Linked DNA regions of Homo sapiens: region 1 is linked to region 2. Evidence: fine-mapped expression QTL. A gene starts in region 2. The other region holds a variant in brackets. All regions are shown on one strand. Distances are from middle to middle. Region 1 overlaps LOC124907879 (a long non-coding RNA gene). Region 2 holds the start of INSIG2 (insulin induced gene 2).

Region 1 (12,914 bases), 42 kb after region 2:
GAGCACAGTGTCTCAGGCTGGGGCCCCGGCTCTGCTGCTCACTAGCAGTTTGAACCTGCGCAAGTTATTTTACGTCCACGTGCCTTGCTTTTTTTTTTTTTAATTTGTAAAATGGTGGCATTATAAATTGATGTAAGAGTTAAATAATCTAAAACATACAAAATATCTAGAAGAGAACTTGTCTCATAGTAAGTGCTTAGGTGTAATTATTAGCAACATCACCATTTAAAATCCCCCACCAAGCCATGAGTAGACCTTGTCCTACCCACCATGGAGATATAAAAGGAGGACTGAGTTTTCCAACTTGATTTGGGAAACAAAATTTATGTATAGGAAAGATAGAAAACAATAAAAAATTACCTGATTGAATAAAAAGTTGATTCTTCCTCCTTTCAAATAATACCAATAAAAATGAGAAAATATAGACCTTGTTGAATTTTGGGGCAGGGGCCTTTCTTTACAGCCAGAGTGATGTTTGATTGGAGATGATCTACAGACCCTGTGATTTCTCCATACTCTACCTTCCCGCAGGAACTGGCACCTCCTCGGCCTCTCTACATCTCAGTTTCGAAAAAGCAGCACATCCTCTCAAATCAATTTGACTGAAAATAAAGATATAAAAAGACCTAAGCGACATAATCACAAACGTAGATATGATGGATAGATGTCATACTATGTGCCCTGAAGTTAGGGAATATATTTTAGTTTCGAGTGCCCATGGAACAGCCACAGTAATTAATCCTACCATTGACCATTGCAAAGAAAATCTCGATGTCAAAAAGTAGCAATAACTTCAGGCTAACTTGGACTTGTTCTTGTGCAAACAGCCTACGCATGGGTTCTGATAAACCACATACCATCCCAGGCCCATAATGTTGGTCTAACGCTCACATTGGATAAAAGAGGAAAACAAAACCTTAAGTGATTTGCTCAAGTCCTTCTGGCAGAGCCTGGACCTCCAATCTTTCCGTTACTTTCCTCAAAAAGGAACTGCAAAGTGGTTAACTGGGCAGTATTGCCCAAGACCACCCAAAGGGTCCTGATGTATCCTTAGACATGTATTGCAGCATGCTGCAGCAATTCTACTGTGTTTATCGAGGATCTACTCTGAGCCCGAACTGGAGACATAGAGCCAGAAGATATGCCCCCTTCCTCCAGAGAGCTCAGACTTAGGGATAGACAGGCTGGGACACCTGCAAATACCTGTTACTACAGAACTGCACTCAAGATGCACAAGAAGCCCACAGGAAACCTGCAAAACTAGCCCTGGAGGTCAGGCCAACCTTCCCAGAGTTTTAAGGGATAAGTTGGAGTTTGCAAGATAAAGAGGTGAGGAGTGGTACAAACCCAGTGTGAGAAGAGAGACCTTTGCCAAGCTGCCTCTCTGTCCAAAGGGCCCTCCACCTCCCCTGCTGACCATTTTCACTCTCCAAGTGTCCCCTCCTCAGAGACAACCCAAGAAGACACCCTCTTGTTTCTCACCCACTGATTGGTTGGTTTGTTGTTTGTCCTTGTATCCCTGGCCCAGTTCAATGCTTGAATCTAGTAGGTGCTTGGTAAATATTTGTTAAGTGAATGAATGATTTATAAGTTGTGTTCTTGAAGGAAAGCTGGCCAGAATTTTTGCATCAGTATGTTCAGTTTCTCCTGTGGCTAGCATGAAAAGCCATTCAGGTGCTTATTGTTTTCTGAAAGAGCCTGTACTAAGTGTGTGAAGGCACAGCTAATGACTTCAAATATTGGGGTTGAGAACAGTCATTCCCTAACCTGGGTCCTCTTATCCCTCTTTGCTTTGCTCCGCCCCCACCCCCTCTCCGCGTTCCACACATAACTCATTCTCTGCTCACAAATCAGCAAGGATGGCAAGGAAGTCTTTTGGTGAAAATTTTGGGGGGCTGCCTGAGGGCTATATGCATATGTTCCATTGTTATTTATTATTTGCTGTGTGATATTCAGCTGCTCACTTAACTTCTCCAAGGCTTAGTTTCTCCCTCTGCAAAAGAGAAATGTCATCATGTCTACCTTGTTTATTGGCCATGTTTTTGCAACTCATAACAGAACACCTTGTATGTAATAGATGCTCAATAAATGGGGGCTGAGTCAGTTGCTACTATTATTGGTGATGGTGACAGTGTGTTTAGCGTTTCATTCATCAGTCTCAGCACATTGCAAATACCAATGAGCAGAACCTCCTCCTCCATCCCGTTATGTCTCTGTGTGCAGAGAGCAGTAATGAGTAGACAAAGATATTGAGAAATTAATTAATCAGTACTAAATGAGTGAGGCAGTGAAATGTGAAGTCTGGAAAGACAAAGACAAATACAAAAAATAAGACTAAAAACAAAGACTTTTTCTATCACAAGGAAAAATGCTCCTCTAGGTTAAGGACTCAGGACTCTTGTTGGAAGTAAATTCTTGGTATCTAACCTAAATTTGTCACCCTTCAACTTCCTTTGAATTCTTGGAGGATCCTCGCTTGTTTTCCTCTTTCTGTTCTGCTTGCTTGTGTCAGATTTCCCTGGGCTCTGCCTCCTTGGCCCTCCCTTAAATGTCAGCATTTCCCAGATCTTCACCTTCGGATCCTGCTGCCTGCCATCCTGACCCACCCAGTCACCCAGAACAGGGACCTCTTTTTTTTTGTTTGTTTAAGACAGGATCTCTCTCTGTCACCCAGGCTAGAGTGCAGTGGTGCGATCATAGCTCGTTGCAGCCTCTTCCTCCTGGGCTCAAATGATCCTCCCACCTTAGCCTCCTGAGTAGCTAGGACTACAGGCATGCGCCATGAATCCTGGCTAATTTATTTTTATATTTAGTAGAGACAAAGTCTTGTTATGTTGACTGGGCTTCAGTAGTCACTCTTGATTCCTCTTTCTCTTTCACCAATTGCTATATCTTAGCAGTTCTCAAACATTCCGTCCCCTATGCCACAACTCCACCTTCAGATACCAGTCCTAGCAGCTGGATTTTTGTGTCAGAACTTGAACTGTCTCTCTGCCTCCAGCTATTGCCCATAATCCCCTCTCCTGGTATGTCAACCACAGTGTAGTTGGAGTGAGCCTTCCAACACATGCTAAAGAACCCCAACTGTCTTCTGAGTGTTTTTCTACAGAGGTGGAGGTCAGGATGGGTACTGGGTGGTGGGAGGTATGTGCTTGTCTAGCTTCCCAGCAGAGGTGTTACGGGACCACCATGGGGAAAGGCTGAGAACCTATGGGAAGGCTTGACAAAAAATGCTCAGGAGCTTCATGGTGGGACCAGGCAGGAGGGAGGCACCCAGGGTTCCCCTCCACACACAGTGCGCCTCTGCACTCTGCTGCCCTCAGAAGACAGTTGGGGCTTCTTAGCATGGTGCCCCAGCCCTTCAGGACCTGGCTCCTGCCACATCTTCAGCCATACCCTGCCCCTTCTCTCTGTCCCTCCCACACTGAGGACAGCAGTTCTGCTCTCAGTTCTGGGGGCTTTGCTCATATTGCTCTTCTTGCAGGGCACAATTTGCTCCACCTTTTAGCCAGACCTCAGTTCAGGGACCATCTCCTCTAAGAAGACTTTGCTGACAACTCCCCCACCCCCTCACTCAACATATACCCCCTTATTATCCCAGGACATCGGGCACATTTACTGCATTGTAACAGGCTCACAACATTTATGACATCATATTGTGGTTGTCTCTTAGCTGACTGTCTACTTGTGTGGGGTAGTGGTGAAGGTGCATTCTCTGGAGCCACCATGTCTGGGTTCACATCTAGGCACTACCACCCATCAGCTGAGTGGCCTTCTACAAGTTCCTTAACCCCTCTGTGTCCCTGTTTCCTCCAACTGAAAAATGAAGATGACCATAGCACCTGCTTCTCAGGTGGGCATGAGGATGAAATGAGGTAATAGCCATAGAGTGCTGGGAACAGGACATGCATACAATAAGCCCTACAATAATGTGACATTATTATTAGACTGTGATCACCTTGAGGGCAGGGTGATCTGCTTTATCTGTCTCTGAATCCATAGTTTCCAACTAAGCCCCAAATTAATGATGAATAGTAATAGCACTAACAATGATAAGAGCAATGAACATCTGCAGAGGTTACACTTTATAGCCTATAAAATGTTTTCACAAACTGTATTTCATTTAGTTGTCAGCACACTGCTGTCAGGTACCTAAGATTATTCCCATTTCACAGATGAAGCAACTAAGGCTCAGAGAGTCCTGGATGAGTCCAGTATGTTGGAGGATTCTAGACAGCCATCTGAATTCAATACTCATGCTTTTGGAATATGGACATTTTAATAGCCAAGACTGAGTCAGCATCTTCTCTTTCTTTGGAAGTCTCTCTTCCAGATTCCGTCTGGTAAATTTCCACTTGTACTTCAACTCCTAGCTTCGAAGTCATCATTCCAGAGGATCTTACTGCCTCTTACATGCTGCCTTGGCTATTCAGTCTATGCCACCCAATCGCATTTCTCTTTTCCTTTCTGTTTTTTCCTGATGTTCCCACTACCCTGTAATCTCTTTAAAGGCAAGGACCATTTATGGTTCATCTTAGTATCTCCCATGCCTAACATGGCATTAGCAGATGAAGGTGCTGGAAACAAACTGAACTGAAGCTTGGTTCCTTCAGTATGTGATATGCACACAGGGTAGAGTATGATGTGGATTGTAGGCAGAAGCACAGTATGTGTGGAGGAAGGCCCTGGACTCCCTCCTGCCTGGTGCCACCATGAAGCTCCTGGAAATTTTTTCTCAACCCTCCCCATAGGTTCTCAGCCTTTCCCCAGGGCAGCCACAATAGTACATCTGCTGGGGAGCTGGACACAGCACCCCCTCCCACCTCCCAGGACCCATCCTGACCTCCACCTCTGTAGAAAAACCCCCAAAGTCTGAGGTGACTTCACTGTAGGAAGCCAAGAGTGGCCATCAATGCAACTACTTCACCCTAAAAGAGAGGGAAAAGAAAGAAAAACTTGTTTTGCCCTTTCAAAATGCTGCCAATCCTTTTGTGAGCCTTAGTGGAAGGTGCATATCCCAAAACTTTATCTATTGATAGAAGATAAGAGCAGCGCCTTGTATTCAAAATACTGTTTCCTTCTCCTTAAAGCCTGGTTCTCCATCAAATACAAGTCTCAATGGCCTCAGCCCAGAGCCGCGCACTCCCTGAAATCACAAGAATAATGCCTGGCTGAGATTTGGACCATTAAGAAGGTCCCTCCCTGGAATGGTT[C/T]GGGAACTTTAGCAACTGATAATGGTGCTGGAGTTCAATTTCAAGGGCTATCCAATGTGAAGGGACAGATGATTTTAAGTAGTTTATTTCTTCATGTTTTGGAAACTTGATATCCTCTTTTATAAGTTGGAGTCATGATATTGTTTTGCAAAGTGATTGAAAAGATGAAATAACATAAATAGATACAGTCATTGTCCTCAGGGAACCTCTTGGGCCCAACCAGTGAGCCAAGTCTTTTGCAGACTAGGTGTGACTGGAGCCGGTAACGGTCCCCATCTTCACCCTCACTATATTCATGTCCATTGCCATGCATCTGTGCAGCTCTTTCATACCCAGACTCTGGGCTCAAGTTGGTGGTTTATGTTGGTCAGTGGAATAAGGCAGACAAGATGGTGTGCCAGTCTGGAGACTAGGCCTCAAGAGCTCCTGCATGTTTCACTTTTCCTCTTGCACTGCTTCCATCGTCGTGAGAATGACATGACTGAGGTAGCCCGCTGATTCCAGAGGTGGGTGAGAGACACCCGGAGCAGAGCTGAGTCACTGCAGCCAAGGCTGGCCTAGACTGGCCAAGCGATAGCCAAGCCCCAGATGCCTCAGTGCTCCCAGCCGAGATCAGCAGAGCTGTCCAGTCAAGCCCACTGTAGAGCAGTGCTGGGCTCTGCAGACATGTGCCAAATAATGTTCGTTGTTTTAGTTTCTGAGGTTTTGTGCAACAAAAACTGCCTGAATTGAGATCAGTGGTGAAATAGAATGAGAGCATTGATATGAACATGGTTTACAAACTTTTAAGGACTATGAAGATTATTCCAAAGGAATGCAGGAACAAAGAGAGAATTGTGTCAACAAAGTCTGGCACATGGCAGGATTCCACTCACTTTCCACAAACTTCGAAGGAAGAAGTAGCTAATTGAATCTGAAGTTTCATTCACTAGAAACTAATATAGAGAATTTACAATAACTTCTCCTGGATGGAAAGTAAGATCCATCGTGTATATGTTAAACAAGAGAAGCATTTGATCCCTTATCTTCCTAGTTAACATTGATCTTTAACACTGATTATGTGATAGTCTTCCTAATACAAAAACTGCCTGATGCCTGATACCTTGTGCCTTAACACTTGGGAGGATAATGAACATGGGAGCCCACAGGCTGGTTAGGGCACAAGTGGTCCGAAAAACCCCAGGGCCTTATGAACAGTTTATAGTTCATAACCGCGTGTCTCTAGGTTTGACTTCTCTTGGTTTGAATCTTGCCTGAATATAGTCAGATTTTCAGATAAGCTTTGTGATTGTAGAGGTTTTCCTAGGTGACAGATGGTGGTGGAAAGGAAGTACATGCAAAAGCGTCTCTTTTTTTTTTTTTTTTGAGACAGAGTCTCGCTCTGTCGCCCAGGCTGGAGTGCAGTGGTGTGATCTCAGCTCACTGCAACCTCTGCCTCACTGGTTCAAGCGATTTACCTGCTTCAGCCTCACGAGTAGCTGGGACTACAAGCACACACTACCACGCCAAGCTAATTTTTGTATTTTTAGTAGAGACAGGGTTTTACCATGTTGGCCAGGCTGGTCTCAAACTCCTGACCTCAAGTGATCCGCCCGCCTCAGCCTCCCCAAGTGCTGGGATTACAGGTGTATTTTTATATCAACAAATTATCTCCTGTCTCCATAAAGCTCATCAAAACTTTTTTGTTATCTGTGTGCTCCCCAACCCCATCCCCCTTGCTATTTGTTTTAGGAAGACTATCACATAATCAGTGTTCAAGATGAATGTTAACTAGGAAGATAAGGGATCAAATGCTTCTCTTGTCTAACATGTACATGATGGATCTTACTTTCCATCCAGGATAAATTATTGTAAATTCTCTATTAGTTTCTAGTGAATGAAACTTCAGATTCAATTAGCTACTTCTTCCTTCAAAGTTTGTGGAAAGTGAGTGGAATCCTGCCATGTGCCAGTCTTTGTTGACACAATTCTCTCCTTGTTCCTTCATTCCTCTGGAATGATCTTCGTAGCCCTTAAAAGTGTATAAACCACGTTCATATCAATGCTCTCATTCTATTTCACCACTGGTCTCAATTCTAGCTGCCTGACTTAATGAGCTTGGCCATCCTTCAGCCTGGGTATATGTCTGGCCTGGCTAATTGCTGAGTGACCTAAATCGAGTTACTTAAATTCTCTGAACTCCTGTTGCTTTATTTCTAATGGGGTTAAACAGTACATAGCCAGAAGCGTTGTTGTATTAACAGCACCCAGCACAGTGTATGGCATACAATCACACTGAAGAAGTGTCAGCGTCTTCCTTCCTTTCAGTCTCCCATCCCTGCCTTTACTTCATTAGTTTAAACTCAACTCTCCCTCCTCCTTTGAAGCCACCGCACGTGTTGTCTCTCCCATTTCTTTGGCAGCCAATTGGCCTTCCATATCTCGGACTCCATATCCAGGATTTTAACTGTGAATCAAAAATATTTGAGAAAACAATACAATGAAAATAACAACCCAACAATAAAACATACAATAAATCTTTACATAGCATTTGCATTGCATTAGGTATTATAAGTGTTCTAGAAATGATTTAAAGTATATGGGAGGTTGTGTGCAGGTTACATGCAAATATTACGTCGTATTATATAAGGGACTTGAGAAACTGTTTATCTGGGTAGCCTCAGGGGGTCCTGGAACCAACTCCTCTGAATACTGAGGGACGACTGTATTACCACATAACAGTTCTGATATTAGGTCTTCTATTATTCATTCCATATTGTATTTATATTTATTTTTTGACAATATTTATTGAGCACCTGTTCTATGCCTAGTGCTAGGCATTAAGGTTAGTTTATGTTGTAAGTTACAGAAAACCTTAGCTGGGCATGGTGGCTCACGCCTGTAATCTCAGCACTTTGGGAGGCCGAGGCAGGTGACACCCTGAGGTCAGGCATTTGAGACCAGCCTGGCCAACATGGCAAAACCCCTTCTCTACTAAAAATACAAAAATTAATGGGGCGTGGTGGCAGGCACCTGTAATCCCAGCTACTCGGGAGGCTGAGGCAGGAGAATTGCTTGAACCCGGGAGGCGGGGGTTGTAGTGAGCCGAGATCGTGCCACTGCACTCCAGCCTGAGCAACAGAGTGAGACTCCAACTCCAAAAAAAAAGGAAAAAAAGAAAAAAAAAAGGAAAGAAAAGGAAACCCAACTCAAACAGGCTTCATCAATAAGGATCACCTAGTGGCACCCAGATGGAAGGCACATAGGCATGGAACTGTGGCTATGCAGGTTGATTGGGGTGATATTCCTCCTGTTTGATTTATCTATCTGTCCCTTTCAGGATTTTTGCAATGGTTTAATACCACTAGTGCTATTAGCAATATTTTCTTAAAGTGATTTACTGTTTCCCTAAATAAACTTACTTTAAAAATAAACTTTAAATCAATACTCTAAAGGAAAACAAATATCCCTGCCATAGGAGGTAATGACAAAATAAGTATAATGACAAAAATAAGTACAATAACAATGATCAAATTCTGACCAATGTTGTTGGCCCAAGCCCCTGAGTCTGAGGCCACCTTGTTCTTTATTGAAAAGGGAAATTAGAAAGAGTTGGAGTGGTGTTTTTAACCACCAGACTAGCATCAAACTAAGACTTTCTCTTTGATATAATCAGAATTGAAAAAATAATTATTTTCTCAATATAAGATTCAATGATGTCTAATATAATGTCCAAGCTCTACCTAAAATTCACTGCAGGTGAATTCTATCCATTCCATATAAAGGCACATACCATGTAATGAGAGTGTAGTCAGAGACTGCTAGGATTCATGCTAAGGGTCAAAGTGATAAGAGCTGCCCATGGTGAGGTGAATTTCACTGGCAGGGGCTGCTTGAAGGGGTAGACCATGGGGCAGACATGAGGCAGGCAGTAGGGATGGGCTTAATGAGAAAAGAAGACAGAAGATACTCAGGGATGATGTCTCCAGGGCTTGGAAACCAGAAATTAGGTTCTGAGGGGAAAGTGGGTACTTAGAGGTGTCTCAAAGAGAATCTCTAACATAGAGGTAAAATAACTGAAGCCAGGCCCAATGAAGAGGGCAAAAGATAACTGGAGCAATTACACTGCCTAAAACATAATGGCCTCTGAATCATGGTAAAACAGTGGGCAGAGGGTGGGAGTCATGGGTCACTGGGCTAGGATTCTGAAAAGCTGTGAGCAATCTGGTGTGATTTCTCACCGCCTAGGCAGATGTACACATTAAGTTAGAGATTTCAAGTTCAAATACCTGCATGTGTCAGGCAGGTAATAGGAACAACTAGTTTTCATGGGTGTAAGATAATAGTGGGTAGTGGGGGTTGGGGCAGAACACACACCACACGTAAAGACACTCAGATTCTGTGAAAGCAAACTAAAAGAAAACACTGGACCTGCCAAACAAGCTGCATCCAAGAAACCTGCCCCTGCACCCCCCCATGTCGTTAGACTCTGGCCTGGATTATTTCTGTGTGTTCCCACATATTGGAGTCACTACTCAAGATCCAGATGAGTTGTGTTGGTTCTGGTCTTCCAGAAAGTGGACCCTAAGACATGATTAGACTTGTGGGAGAGTTACTGGGGGAAATGCCTGTGAAGGAAAAAGGAGAGGAAGCCAGAATGGCAGGGAGAGCTTTTAAGTACAGGTACAGGTGTAAGACCTGGGAAATGGGGCATGGGAAGAGAGAGTGTGTAGGGGTGTCTCAGGCTGCAGGAAGGTCTTAGACGGGCCATCGAGTAGTCCTCAAGCCAAAGATGTCTTCAAAGGGGCCCATGTCTGCGGGAGGGGGCATGCCTCTTAATATCCCTGCTGCCCTCAGTCGCTTGCTGGAAGCAACAGGGCAACGGTGGTGTGAACTCAAGGATGGATCAGGAAGGCAGCAGCTGGAGCTGTCAATCATACCCCCAGAGCAGGAGATCTGAGTGGTGCCTTTCATAACCACAGCATGGCTGAGGGGGATCTGATGCCCCCCAAGTAGCAGGCTTCTTGGCTACTATTCAGCTTCTGTGCTGGGGAGAAAGATCCAACCTTCCTGTCTCCTTTGGGATCCCCCATCCCAAATAAGGAGAATGATTGGATCTTGGAAGTCGACAAATGATAAATGTCCATTATCAAAAGAGCTCTGTGAATTGATATTGTAACCCTTCCCATTAAGAAAAGAAGTTTCTTAGCCAAAAATGTTTGAGAAACACCTATTTTTAAACAAACATTAAATAGATTTCCAGGATTTCCCAGAGCTGTTACTAGGCTGATGTATATCTTGAGTGTCCATGAGAATGAAACAGTATGTACAGTTTGTCACATTTATTCGACCATTGACACACACTCCCAAACTCCAGTTTTTTATTATATTTTAATAGAGCATCTTGCAAGATGCATTTCAATGTGCTGTACATGCTGCACATCTTCTGTTTGTCCCCCCAGATCCACTCACCATCCTTCTCCTTTTCCTCTGTGCCCCAGAGGATAAGCTTCATGAACAAGGTCTTGACCCTCTTTTACCCTTTATTAGCTTTGCCCAGTAGAACGTTTACTGATGATGAACATGTCCTATGTCTACCCTGTCCAGGATGGCAGCCACTAGCCACCAGTTATTGAGCACTGAGGAACTAAATTTTTAACCTTATTTAATTTTGATTAACTTAGATAGCTAAGTGTGGCTAGTGGCTCTCTTACTGGGCAGCACAGTTCTGGCTTCTGGTTGGGTCTGGCCAGTAAGAAGCAACAAGAGAATCCTGGGGAGGAAAAGCAGGGTGAAGAAGATTATTTATTTCCCTGGGACCTCTCCCTGTGTGGTTACCATGGGTCATCATGTCCTCTGCAAAGGCCTCAGCTCTTGTCAGACATCCCTTGCCATACAGCCACTCTCTTGCCAAATTCAGCAGAGACTTCCTTTTCCTGGCCTTTGAGGACGAGGGGTGGTCAATGCAACCTAATGCTGGTGGCTACTGTGCCAGCCTTGTAGGTTTCCCTACCCTAGCCTGCCCACACAATTGCAAATGGTCCTGTTAAAATTCTGCTCAGTTACTTGGGTTGAGAATATAATCTGTTTCCTATCAGAACCCTGCCTAGTCTAAAGCAGTGAAATAAAACTTGTTTTTAATTTTGAAAAATATTTTCTTGTAGTAATAGTAAAAACATCAGAAAGGACTTATGACAAGAATCACCAATCATTTTCCCCTAAACACTCTTTGTCCCTCCTCCCGATGCCTATAGGCAAGAACTTTTAATTCTCTTCAGTTTTACCTTTGAAGGTTACCTCCATACCTCAAAATAATAGGCTAAGGCCACTCTTAGTGCTATGTCAACTGGAGACATTATCCATTTCTCCCAATGGGCTACATGAGGATTTCCCTCACTTGCACCACCCCTACCTTCCCTTCCTCTCTCCTCCCAATTTTTGATAGCTATATTAGTATTTTAAACTTCCTCTACTGCTTACCACATACATTTAAAGAATAGATATAAACTACTATTTCTTGTTCTGTTGCTTTCAACTGCATCTCTTGACCCCCCGTTTTGCAAAATGAAGGTATTTCCTTCCCAACCTGTTTTTCTTCCCTTTTCATCTCCCTGTTTCTGTCAAGCTAAACCTTTATTTTTTACACGGTGAGTGTGGAGAACATGTACATTTTGTTTTGTAGCCACTCAGTTTTCTATGCTTTGTCTATGAGAGTTTCTAAAAATTAAGAGCCAGAAATGAACATCTATGTTATGTTGATATTGTTTAGTACAGGACTAAGGAGCGTGCATTTTCTTTTCTCCAGGCCTAATATCACAATCCCTTTGCTAGTCAAAGAGAACATTTCTAGCATCAGAGCCAAATGTACTTCCCCCGACTCCTCTAATTGCTCAAAATTATACCATATTTTAGTTCTTCCTAAAGAACTAAAGATCTTTTGTTCTTTCTTTCTATTTATTTATTTATTTTAAATTTTAGATTTATGGGGGTATATGTGCAGATTTGTTATATGAGTATATTGTGTAATGGTGAGATCTGGGCTTCTTATGAACACTTCACCCAAATAGTGAACATTGTAACCAATAGGTAATTTTTTTTTATTATACTTTTAAGTTTTAGGGTACATGTGCACATTGTGCAGGTTAGTTACATATGTATACATGTGCCATGCTGGTGCGCTGCACCCACTAACTCGTCATCTAGCATTAGGTATATCTCCCGATGCTATCCCTCCCCCCTCCCCCCACCCCACAACAGTCCCCAGAGTGTGATATTCCCCTTCCTGTGTCCATGTGATCTCATTGTTCAGTTCCCACCTGTGAGTGAGAATATGCAGTGTTTGGTTTTTCGTTCTTGTGATAGTTTACTGAGAATGATGATTTCCAATTTCATCCATGTCCCTACAAAGGACATGAACTCATCATTTTTTATGGCTGCATAGTATTCCATGGTGTATATGTGCCACATTTTCTTAATCCAGTCTATCATTGTTGGACATTTGGGTTGGTTCCAAGTCTTTGCTATTGTGAATAATGCCGCAGTAAACATACGTGTGCATGTGTCTTTATAGCAGCATGATTTATAGTCCTTTGGGTATATACCCAGTAATGGGATGGCAGGGTCAAATGGTATTTCCAGTTCTAGATCCCTGAGGAGTCGCCACACTGACTTCCACAATGGTTGAACTAGTTTACAGTCCCACCAACAGTGTAAAAGTGTTCC
Region 2 (12,914 bases):
CTTTTGATGGTTTTTGGTTTTGGCAAGTCTCAATCCCAGAACAAATCTAAATTCAAGTCCTTGAGTTTCTATAGTGTGTTTTATGTCTGTTACATGAGCTAGCTTTATACATATTTCTTTTGGGTAAGTTTAATTATTGGATCATCGTGTCCTTCATCTGCTATCAAATGAAACCCTCTGCTTTTGTGAACCAATGCATATAAATGTATACATACATATAATTAGCAAGTCAGAGGAAATTCTCTGCTACTTCCATCAGTGTCTTATAAAAATAATATACACTCTTAGACAACCATGAGTCTAGCTTAAGTTCAGTTAGAGATAAGAATACATACATTGTCTTCGGGAGGGACCTAACATTATATAAACCCCATTATGTGTGAGTTCAGTTTGAATGGCGTGTCCCAGAGATGAAACAACAGTACGGTGAATTAGCAGGACAAAAATCTTTTAGAGAACACCTTGTTATGTTTTCTGACCTCAAATTGTATGGGCCCTTGTAATAATTAATAGCTAGTGTCGCTTTTATATTCTGGGTCTCTATCATTGCCTCTGTGACAAAGAGTTTATAGTCTGTAATCTTTCCAGTTGTCTTCTCACTCTGATGTTTTACACCTCAGTAGCTTTGTCTTAGAGGTGTATTTTGCATTTGCTTGCTCATCCATAGTGACCTCGCTTGGGCTTTGTTTAGTTTATTTGTTGCCTGATGATACATACCAAGCCTTACAGCGACCATTTGACTTTATATACATTCAATTTATTGACTTTAGGTGTCATTGCTTCTGTACAGACCCATCCAAAAATGCCCCCAAAGTGCTATGCCACTAAAAGATAAATGTCCTCATTCTCCTTTTTTGGAGCTGTTGATGTGCAAACCTCCCCCTGCCCCCTACCATCCACCTCAATATTGATGACATTATACATCCATTTCAAGATGTCCTTTACATTACTATACTTTTAAGCTTACTTACGTTATGCTTTTCTTCACAGTGAGTTTGCAAATATTTTGCTTTTATGATGTATATGAGCTTAAGCCTAAGAATTCTCTCTCTAGTTTTATGTTTAGAACATTGTAACTTTTTTAGGTTTAAGTAATATTATGATCAAAATAATTTAAGTCAGTATGAGGGGTACATAAAAATTATTTGTGTGAAAACATTGTTCTAGGATATTCCTATTACATTTCTGAATGCATCATATAGCATTATTCTTAAATATTTAGCCAATATTTAAAATTGGTTTGCATTCTCTGGCTATGTCTCATCTATTACATTTGCTATGTGGCCAAGGAAAGCCTGGAAAGTATTAAAAACTCATCATGGATAATCATGAATTGATTGTGTTTAATACCACTGTAGATAAAAAATAGCTTTATTGACATATTCAAGTATGGCAATGTCAGGGTTTTTCTTTTCTTTCTCGTATCTCTATTGTCTTTTAAAAAATTCCAAACACAGCATACGCTTTATGCAAGGCATGTTTTCAACTACCTCCTATTAAGTCAATAATTCCAGATCTTCATTTCTAGACCAATTTGGGGATTCAAACTCCAGATGCACATTTCCACTGCTCTACTGGACATTTTTACCCGAATGTTCAACAAGTATTTCAAACTCACTCAACCTGAAATTCAATTCTTGTACTCTTGTTCTAGATCAATGATGTTACTTTCACTCAGTCTCTCAGGCTCAAAACTTTGAAATCAACTTCCACCTTCTTTTCTTCACTCCTAACATTAGCAGTTATCAAGTCCTGATGATTCTTTGTATCCTCTGCCATTGCCTTTGTTAAGTTTGCACCACCTCTCAGCAGACAATCGCACTAGCTGCCCACGTAGATTCCCTGTCATCAGTTGCCTACATCAATCTAGCTTAAAATAGGAAAAATATATCTGATCTCATTGAGAGTTCTCAGTTGACTTGCTTCTGTAGAGGTGGGCTGACCTAACTTCTGCATTTCCAGGCTGTGAATTTATTGATGGCAAGAGATCTGTCTTATTCATTGTTGTGTCTCAGTGTTTAACAGAGTTCCCACATGTAACTGCTGCTTACTACGTGCTTGTGAATGTTGACAGGGCACTAGTGAGTGACTAAGAGCATAGGGTTTAGAATCCAATAGATCTAGGTTCAATTTCTGCCTTCTCTGCCACTTAGCTATGAAGTGACCTTGGACTGATTAACACTAAGTCAGTGATTCTCAACGCTCAGGTGGGGCTCGGGCACTAGAACTTTTAATAAATCTATGGGTGATCCTAATATGCAGCCAAAGTTAAGAATCACTGCTTTTAGCCTTAATTTCTCATCTGCTATTTGGTATCTATTTCAAATGGGTTTTGAGCATGTGAAATGAGATTTAACTTAGCACAGTGCCTGGCACACAGAAAGTGATTACCATCAATCATGATGTTAAAATACAACTTCAATTTGCAATTTTCTTTTCAATTGCTACCCCCAGCTCTGCCTTTCTTTCAATTCCCAGAATGCACCAAGTTTTTCAGCTTTTGTGCCCTCACACCTGTTCTTCATCCTGCTCTTAGCAGATCCCTCTCAATCTTCAGCTCACGCATGGTCTCCAGGTATTCCCCTTTATTCTCCATCACAATATGGAGATGTTCCATCTTCATGGCACTTGTCTCAGTTTGTAATTACATATGAATTCCACCATTTACTGTGTTTCCCCCACAGGACTCTAGCTTCACAAAGGAATGTGGCTTGTCTGTATTGATTTCCTCCTAAAGTCCAGTGCCAAGTGTCTGGTACCTGCCAGGTGCTCAGGTGATAGCTGGCTTAGTAAATAATCCATTCTGATCTCTCAAAAAAGCAAAATTCCTTGACTTTCTATGTCCCTCAAACATATTTCACATCAAAACACCGTAACAAAAACCAAAACCAAAAAAGTAGAATGGTCTGTAGTGTGTGGGGTTCTAGCTACTGAATAGGAAAATTGCAATAGTAAAAAAATTATCTTGGATGTTTTTAATTTGGGTAATGTTTCCAAGTCCAAGGTTCTTAGAGGCTTACTGAATGGCTTAGTCATCAACCTGTAGGCAATAATTAATGTGACTCCTACAATATCTCACTCCAACAAAGTCAATAAACTTTTGTGGGTGTTTGTATTAGCTAAGTAAAGGGCTTTTTGTTTTCTAACTTATCTTTGATCTTCTTGGTTGGGAGACCAAACAACATATAAAGCTAATGGAAAAAACCTTTCTTGAGGTCAAGAATTATCAAATTGTTGATACTTCTACCTATAAAAAAGACCTCAGAAATCATCTAAACCAATCTCTCATTTTACAGATGAAAAGAAGAAAGCCTAAAAAAATGAATTTATTGCAAGTGATTACACGCATACTGTCTTAGTGCTAAAATACAATCCAGGTTTCAAGGATCATTCACCAGCGTTCCATTGACCACATTACACCAACTTCAAAATAACTCAGTTGTTATGATTTCTTGATGTTCTTAACCAATTTATATTCTGGCATCAATTAATTTAGGATTTCCATGTTTCCATAACAAAAATTTAGTCCAAATTCATGAGCCTGATGTTTAGAACTCACATGTCTCACCATACCTCTTTGTACATGCCAGACTCTGCAATCTGTTTCATGTTTTTCCAACTCTGAGCTTCCACCAGAATGCACAGGCTAACCATATCTGCATATTTACCCTCAACGCCCACTGAAAGACCACATCTTCCATGAAAACTTTCCTCAAATCTGGTCAAAGAAGACAATGGCCTTTTGTATTTCTCCTAGGGATTTTATATTCCTCCTTGTACTGCAGTAGGAGTAACTGCATTAGATATAGGAACCTTGGAACTGGTGCTATATGGTTTTTGCTTTTTAGGTTCTGTCACTACTTGCAATTAATACATATTTAAACGAAAATAAATGCCCCTCTAGGTTACAATGTTCCATAAGGATTTTCTTGAAGGCAATTTCTAAGTGTCTGAAAAAAGCTCGGTTGGAGTAGACATGAACTGGACATACAGGACTTGTATTGCTTTAAGGAAATACATGATGTCAGAACATTTTCAAATTATTGTCTCTTTTCTGAATGCTTTCTCTATTCTTTTAAAAATCATCGTCCATTCTGTATAATTGGCCCAGATCTTTCTTACTGGTAGTGTAAAAACTTACAGGAGTGAAATTTGAAAGCTACAGAAAACATTAGAGAAAACACTAAGATATAGGAAATGTTAGAGAAGCATCATGCAAATACTTGCCTAGAAACATTTTGTTGGAATTCAGATTCTTTTTCAATTTTCAGAAGTAAATGTAGATAAAAAGGTCAAAAAACAAAAATCCATCTTATCGTTTATCAGTTCAAAGTAAATGAAAGGAGTTTACCATCTGACAGTCCTTTGGAAAACTATTATGCAATTACTCTCGGCCCAGATTTCATCTAGAACATTCAAGTCCATTGTAATCTTACCACATCCATACACGTTTTGGGTTAAGCCACCTCCAAATGGAATAGCTCAATAACTAATACACTCAAGAGAGATTATTTTTTCTCTCTTTTTAAAAAGAGTTGCTTAAAAAAAACAAATTCAGGGGGCAGCTCACGCCTGTAATCCCAGCACTTTGGGAGGATGAGGCGGGCGAATCACGAGGTCAGGAGTTTGAGACCAGCCTGGCCAATATGATGAAACTCCATCTCTACTAAAAATACAAAAAGTAGGCAGACATGGTGGCATGTACCTGTAGTCCCAGCTACTGGGGAGGCTGAGGCAGAAGAATCACTTGAACCCGGGAGGCAGAGGTTGCAGTGAGCCGAGATCATGCCAGTGCACTCCAGCCTGGGTGACAGAGAGAGACTCCGTCTCAAATAAATAAATAAATAAAAATAAATAAAAATTCAGAATAGGGAAGCAACTCCTCCTTATGACGAGTACCTTTCGGCACTTATATGGGCTTGCTTTTGCATTGATGGCACCACTTTCATTCAAAAAAAAAAGTTCGCTTGCACAATCTGCAAAGATCTGTTTGGCTTGGTTTCATGTTCTAAAAGTATGGTTTTAGATTAAATGAAAAATAATACTTCTGAAAAATAAGCGGTTATAAGGTTTTTAAGTTTTCTTTATGTTGGTGTAAACTTATAAAGCCCTTCCTATGAAAACTGTCCCCCAAATCACATTACTTGGTCGTCCTCGAGGAACGATTTTGAATGAAAAGCACATAAAGTGCTGTAGCATGGAGACGAGAGACAAATAACTATGCCCTTCTCCCAAAATAAGTTATGACTTACTAGGGGAGGAAAAGGAGCAAAGAGTATAAAGCCCGGTCCTCTGCGGGAAGTACCCGGAGGCCTGCCCCGGAACGCGCTCCTTTCGGCTACGAGATGAGGGGCACGCAGACGGACGCGCCCCTCGGTGAGTGTGCGTGTATCAGTGCATGATTCCTTTACTCCGCCCACAGGGTCTGGGCATCCGTCATTACCTACGGCTGCCTGGTCAGCAAACAACAGCAGATCCGACAACCGCCAGTCACCTCGACGGTCCACGCCCACCGCTAGCCTCCAGTTTCCCGCAGACCGGAAGCCCTTTTGCCCCGGCTCGCAGGTCCACGTCTTATTGACAGCAGGAACCGGAAGCTCTTCTGCCCCGATCGCCTGCGCGCGGCCTCGTTGGCCGCACAGGCGCAGTGGAGCTCGGGCGGAGTTGTGGGAGTGGAGGAGGAAGAGGCGGTAGGGGGTACGGGGGCTGGTCCCAGAAGATGGCGGAGGCGGGGGTGAGTTGGGGGTCTCCCGGCGAAGCGCGGGTGACGTGGTGCTGAGGAAAGCGGCCTGAGGAGGAGGGTGGCCCTTGGGAAGAAGAACTACTTGTGTTTTTGCAGCCTGGGAACCCTGGTGGCAGGTGCGGGGAGCCAGGACCACTGATGGGCCTGCAGGGCAAGGGGCTCCGCTTACCTGAGAGGGGTCCGCAAGGTCCAGAAGGGGACTGCGGGATCGGGGAGGGGGTATAGGAGGGGTCGAGGCTCCCCGGACAGTGGATGAGTGTCTGAGCGGGAAGAAGGCTGGAGGACGGCGAGAAGGGCGACCCAATGGTCTGATGAGGTGGAGGTCAGCGAGCTGTCAAGCATAGAGCTGCCAGGACTTGGGGGCTTGTAGCCTGGGAGAGAAGACTCAGACTTGGGCGGGGATTGGATCCAAAGAAGACAGGTTGTCGTAGTAAGTTTATAATCCACTAAGGAGATAGGGCATTGGGTTGAGGAGTAATACTCTGGCATTTTTGACTGGAATTGGTTACCTATGGAATAGGTGTTTCGGTAAAGCCAAATAATTCTTGCCAGGGCCTAGAAGTGGATTTGATGATAATTACTAGATTTTAGGGTTGCTTAGTGGGGATTGGCAATATGGAGAAGGAAAGCAGTGTGGATTATGGGAGTGGGCGCGGGCAATGGCGCTAACACTTAAGTGATAATGACCCATGTCCAGTTAACGTTGGAAAAAGTTGTTAAAGTATGATATTAGCTAGATGCTCTAGGAAAATATACCATGAAGAACTTGCTGTTTTGTAGGATTGATGAAGAAATGCTTTAAAAAGGAATGGTTAGGCTTGGCAGCTGGGCCACTGAAACTGTTTGGTATCAGTATTGCGGTGGAGCTGAGGACTGCAGGGGAATGCGTGCTCCCGTCCTGGTGCAGAAAAAATAAAAGCAGCCAGACAGTAGCTAGATGGTGTTTTGTAACTTTTGGGTTTGGCCCTGATAGTGAACCACTGAATGAAGATGGATGAAGGGAATGCTACTAATGGGGGCCCCAAAGAAAACAAAAATCAGACGTGTGCTCTTCCTGTTTTCTGTCTTTCATTCTTTCCCTGTACTTTGTGCTCAGTACTGTGTTTTGTCATTGTGTTATGTCGTAGTTCTCAGTTCACATCTGCTGTACAGTGACCAAGCTGTGAATCATGTCCACTCGGGAAAGAGGTTGATTCTGTTTAACTGACAACTGTTGCTTTTGCAGATGGTCACACGGAAAAGGAAAGAATAAAATGCAGTTCAGTAGTTTAAAGAGTTTTCTTTGTTCTCAGAAACTTATCTCGAAACGATGGAGTAACTTTTTTAGGCACTGAGATGTGACATTTAAAACCTGTAAGGGGCTGTAAATGCAGCTAACTTACTGGTTTCTATGTTTGGGTTTTAATGTTGAGAGGAAAGAGTTGCAGTGTTTATAAGGCAAATATTGCTTTTCTTCCTAGAAATTTTTAACGTCTCTAGCCCATGATACATGTAGATGTGTTTTTATTTAGGGAGCATTAAACTGTTGCATTGATTTAAGTCTGTTTTTTTCTAATGTTAGTGCTTATTCTATTTCAAGAATGCTATTCTAATTAAGAGAGCATATGATGAAAAATATGTGAGGTAGTAATTTAACTTTATTATTTAGTAGCTTACGTGACCTAAGCACCTGAAGAAACAGGGTTATCTGAGGGAGTAAAAATACTTCTTTTACGGCTAATCATTGGAAGAGGAATGGTCTTGTCATTTGGTTTTAGGGGGTGTTGCAGTTGTTACAATGCAACAGGTTCTTAAGGTTACTAGAAGATTTTGTATGTGTGTTTGTTTTCAAATGCTTGTTGCCTCTAAGTTGTTTCAGTGGCCAACATGAACCTTGATTTTTATTCACGAAGCTCATAATCACTTATAACTCTTTTTTAACCTGAAAGTAATAATATCAATCCATTAATAGGCAGCCATACACCTGGAATAATGTTTTTCCAGTATTGATGATTCATCATTGATCTATGCAAATTATTTCAACTTTTTTTCTTTTTGTTTAGTATTGTACTTTCCAGAAATTTTAGGCCAGGGCTCAGCGTAGAATTTTTCAAGTCTGGTGGAAAGTTTTTCTTTGTGAATTGTTGAAAACATTATTTTGGTATTAATAGTAGTTTACCAACATGATTTTAAAAACGGTTTCTTGTGTGGCACTTAAATTGTTTTGTACCATGTTTGTGAATGGAAGCAGTGTGGTGAAGCAGGAAGAACTCCGGACATGGGGTCAGAGTGGGTGAGCCTAGTCCTGGTGCTACCTGGTAACAGTTCTGTGATCTTGGAAAGTTACTTAACCTATTTTATTTTGTAAAATGGAAACTAACAACACCTGCCTATTTACCAAGATTGTTTTCGAGAATCTATTGACATATTGTCCTTTAAACAGTATCTTTATACCAGAGACTTTTTCCCTGGTCAGCAAATTATTTGTCAAGTAATCTAAATTTTTCAAATATAGATTTTTAAAAAAAATTTTGGAGCATCAAGTTTATCATTAATGTAAGACTAATATTTAAAGATATAGATCCACTTTGTTTTAAGAAAATGGTATCAGTACAAAATCAGAAAAACAAACTTCAAAGTAAACTAAGGGAGCTTACTTTCCCTTGAAAATAACCCACTCCTCTGACTCCTCTAGTGTGCAACTGATATTATAAACATGCTTTTAAAGGAATTTCATTGTTGCATGGTAGGGGGTGAAATGGTTTTGTGGACGCCTCTATCCCTTTGATGAGTCTGGTCATTTTCTGGCATTCACTATACACGTTTGTGGTAATAAGAACTGATGGTACTGTCTTAATCTTGTTAATCCAGTTGACTACTTTGCATGTCATTGGCCTTGCTAATAGAGTGAGAGAATTGTTAGATTACTGATTCTTTACTTTGTTTGGATCATGGACTTTTTTGAGTACTTTATATAAATTATGGAACTTTCATCCCAGAAAAAAATGCATATATATACAACTTTTTTGTTTTGTTTCGCATGGGGGTCTCATACCCCTTGGAATAGATGATTTCCCAGTTCCCTGCTATTTCTTAAAGCTTTTATTTTTTGTCACCAGTAATTATATACTATTGTATTATGATGTAGTTACAAAATTAGCTTTTTGAATCTCATTCAAATAAATGTCAAGCAAATGTGTTATTTTTAAGGAAAACTTTTGGGGCGAAGTAGAAAACTAAACAAGCACTGCCAGGAAAGGTTAAATAAGCAGCTGTGGTAGAAAACATAAATAAACAGAAAGTCTCTAGCTGTCTTGAAATAGAATGAAGTCTGTAGCAATCAGTGGCTCTCATTGTGGGGACAGTTTTGGTTATCACAAATAGGGGAGGGGGCATTTAGTGGGTGGGAGCCAGGGATGCTAAATGTTTTGCAATGCTTAGAACAGTCTCACACAGCAAATAATTGTCCTGCCTAAAATATCAGTGCCCTTTGACAAATGCTGGTCAGTGTGAGATGGGGGCTAGCATGACTGAAATAGCTTTTTTAAACTGAAGTTATTTTCCTTTTTAAAAATACTATTAAACATAAAATACCCCTTTCCATTAATTCCCTTTTGGAAAAATCACAAACAGAAACAAATGATACGCTGTCTCAATGTGGGTTACTCAAAGTATGCCCATCTTCTAGCAGCTGTTAGCAGCACGTGAGGGCAACGTGCTGTGTCTACTGGGATCTGGGGAAGTAAAGAGTCAACTAATGTTCTTATACAGAGTGTTAGTTTGCTATTTTTTCTTTTTACTTTAAAACATTTTCACACCTTGATCTAGTACTATTAAAGAAAATTTCAAGGTGATTTTACATTTATTCTCATCATCTTTGTGCAATTGTATAGTCACCTGCTTGTTTTGGCTTACTATCTGAGAGTGTATTATAGTTGAGATGGTATTTCAACATCTAACCATCTTTTCAGTAACCAAACACTTTTATATAGAACCATCTGCCGAAAAAGAAGTCTGAGCAGTTGAGATGGAATGGAATTCAAGGTATAGAGGCAAGAGGATGGGTTTTGGAATCAGACCTGAAGTGGAATTTCAGTTTTGATACTGCATGTCATGTGACCATAAGCAAATTGCTGAATCTCTTTGACTTGGTAGCCTCATCTGTAAAATGAGGATGATAATGTCTACCTTTATGTTTGTTTTGAAGAGTAGAGTTACTATATGTCTGGCAGGGAGTAGGCCTTCCATAAATGGGTGCCCTATAAAGAATAATGATGATGATGATGAGGAGGAGAGTTCTGTAGCTACTGAACCTTGCTAAAAGCAACCAGATGATGATGATGATGATGATGATGAGGACGAGGAGAGTTCTGTAGCTACTGAACCTTGCTAAAAGCAACCAGATTATGATGATGATGAGGAGGAGGAGGAGGAGGAGAGTTCTGTAGCTACTGAACCTTGCTAAAAGCAACCAGATGATGATGATGAGGAGGAGGAGGAGGAGGAGGAGGAGAGTTCTGTAGCTACTGAACCTTGCCAAAAGCAACCAGATGATGATGATGATGATGATGATGAAGGAGAGTTCTGTAGCTACTGAACCTTGCCAAAAGCAACCAGATGATGATGATGATGATGATGAAGGAGAGTTCTGTAGCTACTGAACCTTGCCAAAAGCAACCAGATGATGATGATGATGATGATGATGATGATGATGATGATGGAGAGTTCTGTAGCTACTGAACCTTGCTGAAAGCAACCAGATGATGATGATGAGGAGGAGGAGGAGGAGGAGGAGGAGAGTTCTGTAGCTACTGAACCTTGCCAAAAGCAACCAGATGATGATGATGATGATGATGATGATGAAGGAGAGTTCTGTAGCTACTGAACCTTGCCAAAAGCAACCAGATGATGATGATGATGATGATGAAGGAGAGTTCTGTAGCTACTGAACCTTGCCAAAAGCAACCAGATGATGATGATGATGATGATGATGATGATGATGATGATGGAGAGTTCTGTAGCTACTGAACCTTGCTGAAAGCAACCAGATGATGATGATGATGAGGAGGAGGAGGAGGAGGAGGAGAGTTCTGTAGCTACTGAACCTTGCTAAAAGCAACCAGATGATGATGATGAGGAGGAGGAGGAGGAGGAGGAGGAGAGTTCTGTAGCTACTGAACCTTGCCAAGAGCAACCAGATGATGATGATGATGAAGGAGAGTTCTGTAGCTACTGAACCTTGCCAAAAGCAACCAGATGATGATGTTGATGATGATGAAGGAGAGTTCTGTAGCTACTGAACCTTGCTGAAAGCAACCAGATGATGATGATGATGAGGAGGAGGAGGAGGAGGAGGAGAGTTCTGTAGCTACTGAACCTTGCTAAAAGCAACCAGATGATGATGATGATGATGAGGAGGAGGAGGAGGAGGAGGAGGAGGAGGAGAGTTCTGTAGCTACTGAACCTTGCCAAAAGCAACCAGATGATGATGATGATGATGATGATGATGATGATGATGATGGAGAGTTCTGTAGCTACTGAACCTTGCTGAAAGCAACCAGATGATGATGATGATGAGGAGGAGGAGGAGGAGGAGGAGAGTTCTGTAGCTACTGAACCTTGCTAAAAGCAACCAGATGATGATGATGATGAGGAGGAGGAGGAGGAGAGTTCTGTAGCTACTGAACCTTGCCAAAAGCAACCAGATGATGATGATGATGATGATGATGATGATGATGAAGGAGAGTTCTGTAGCTACTGAACCTTGCCAAAAGCAACCAGATGATGATGATGATGAAGGAGAGTTCTGTAGCTACTGAACCTTGCCAAAAGCAACCAGATGATGATGATGATGATGATGGAGAGTTCTGTAGCTACTGAACCTTGCTGAAAGCAACCAGAATGCATGGCATGCTCATATGCCTGGATTCCACAGCAAGGAATGGTCTGCAGGATCAGGTCAGGAGGAGATGTTTCAGGGCATTTTCAGTTGGTATTTAGAGTATGTTTTCCCATGAATTAGCTATACTGTGGATTAGTTTTTTTAGTCCTTTAAGCCATAGAGTTCAATTACATTATAGACTAAGTAGGTCAGTGAGGACTAGCTTGGGAACAGAATTTCCTCTTGAATGTTGAACACAGAGCTTTGATGTGGCATAGCCCCAGTAAAAAGGCCCGTTGTCTAAGTGTTTATCACATGGAACTGACAGGTTGTGGAGGTTACTAGTACTTACAGATATTCTCATTTTCATACTAGTTATTTGTAATTCAGCCCCATTCTCTGCGGTTTACATGAGGGCTTTGTTCCAAAATTCATTCAAAGGTTGTTTGATACTGGAAAACTCAGAGGAAATGTATAAATTTTATGTGATGATTAGGAGCTAGGTTTGCTCTCAAAAAGGCCTACTTTACCCTATATGGTTTGATTCAGAAAGAGTTAACCCAATTTAATTAAGCAAATATGATTATGTGGAGCTCCCACTGTGGGCTAAGCAGGAACTTTTCTGGGTGCATAGGCACAGTGATATTAATATAATAGTGAATAAGACCTTCATAAAACATTTACAATCCATAAAGCAACTATACCTTTAATTAGAAAGTAGTCATTATAAGTGCTACACTTTTTAAAATAAACTGCTTTTGGATTGAAGGAAATATCATTTCTGTACCGATTTATGAAAGTGCCAAAGATATATTGTTGGATGGGATAAAAGTAAATTACCTGTGTAGTATTTTTCCCATTTAAAAACTGTTAGTATTCATAGAAAACATATCAAATATGTGACAGTTTGGGAGACTGAACATCATGGTAAGAATGAGGGCTTTGGAGTCAGACTGCATGGTTTTGAATCCCAGCTTGGCCTCTTACTGGAGATGTGAACTAGGTCAAGTGACTTAACCTTTCTTTGCTTTTTTGCGTCACCTATAAAATGTACATAATAATTGCACTTACCTCTGAAGGTTATTGTGAGGATTAAATGAATTACCACATGTCAGGTGCTTAAAACAGCACATAGAAAGCCCCAAAAGGAAAGATCACTTTGGTTAGAGGAATGAACAAGTACCTAGACTGATTGTAGTAGCAAAGTTTTAGGTTTTAGGAGTCAGGGACCAAGTGGATAAAACTCCTTAGAATCTAGCCATTAGATTGTTCTTCATTTTCTTCACTTCCTTTCTTTTGCTTCGTCCTCCA

What was found. PIP is the estimated chance that this variant, and not a neighbour inherited with it, causes the effect.
Region 1: its variant is fine-mapped to the expression of INSIG2 in whole blood (INTERVAL, PIP 0.94).

What each region holds. Positions count from the first base shown.
Region 1 is chr2:118,124,714-118,137,627 of GRCh38, forward strand. LOC124907879 (a long non-coding RNA gene) reads right to left here. Exons shown (of 2, transcript XR_007087211.1): 2 at 7,383-7,659. Among named protein-coding and RNA genes, the nearest start is that of INSIG2, 43 kb to the left of the region's middle. RefSeq lists an enhancer at 6,395-6,474. The variant C/T (reference allele first, on the strand shown) is at 5,214.
Region 2 is chr2:118,082,808-118,095,721 of GRCh38, forward strand. INSIG2 (insulin induced gene 2) reads left to right here and starts at 5,664. Exons shown (of 6, transcript NM_016133.4): 1 at 5,664-5,734. LOC107985940 (a long non-coding RNA gene) reads right to left here and starts at 5,624. Exons shown (of 3, transcript XR_001739662.3): 1 at 5,444-5,624. RefSeq lists enhancers at 5,369-5,418, 5,429-5,618.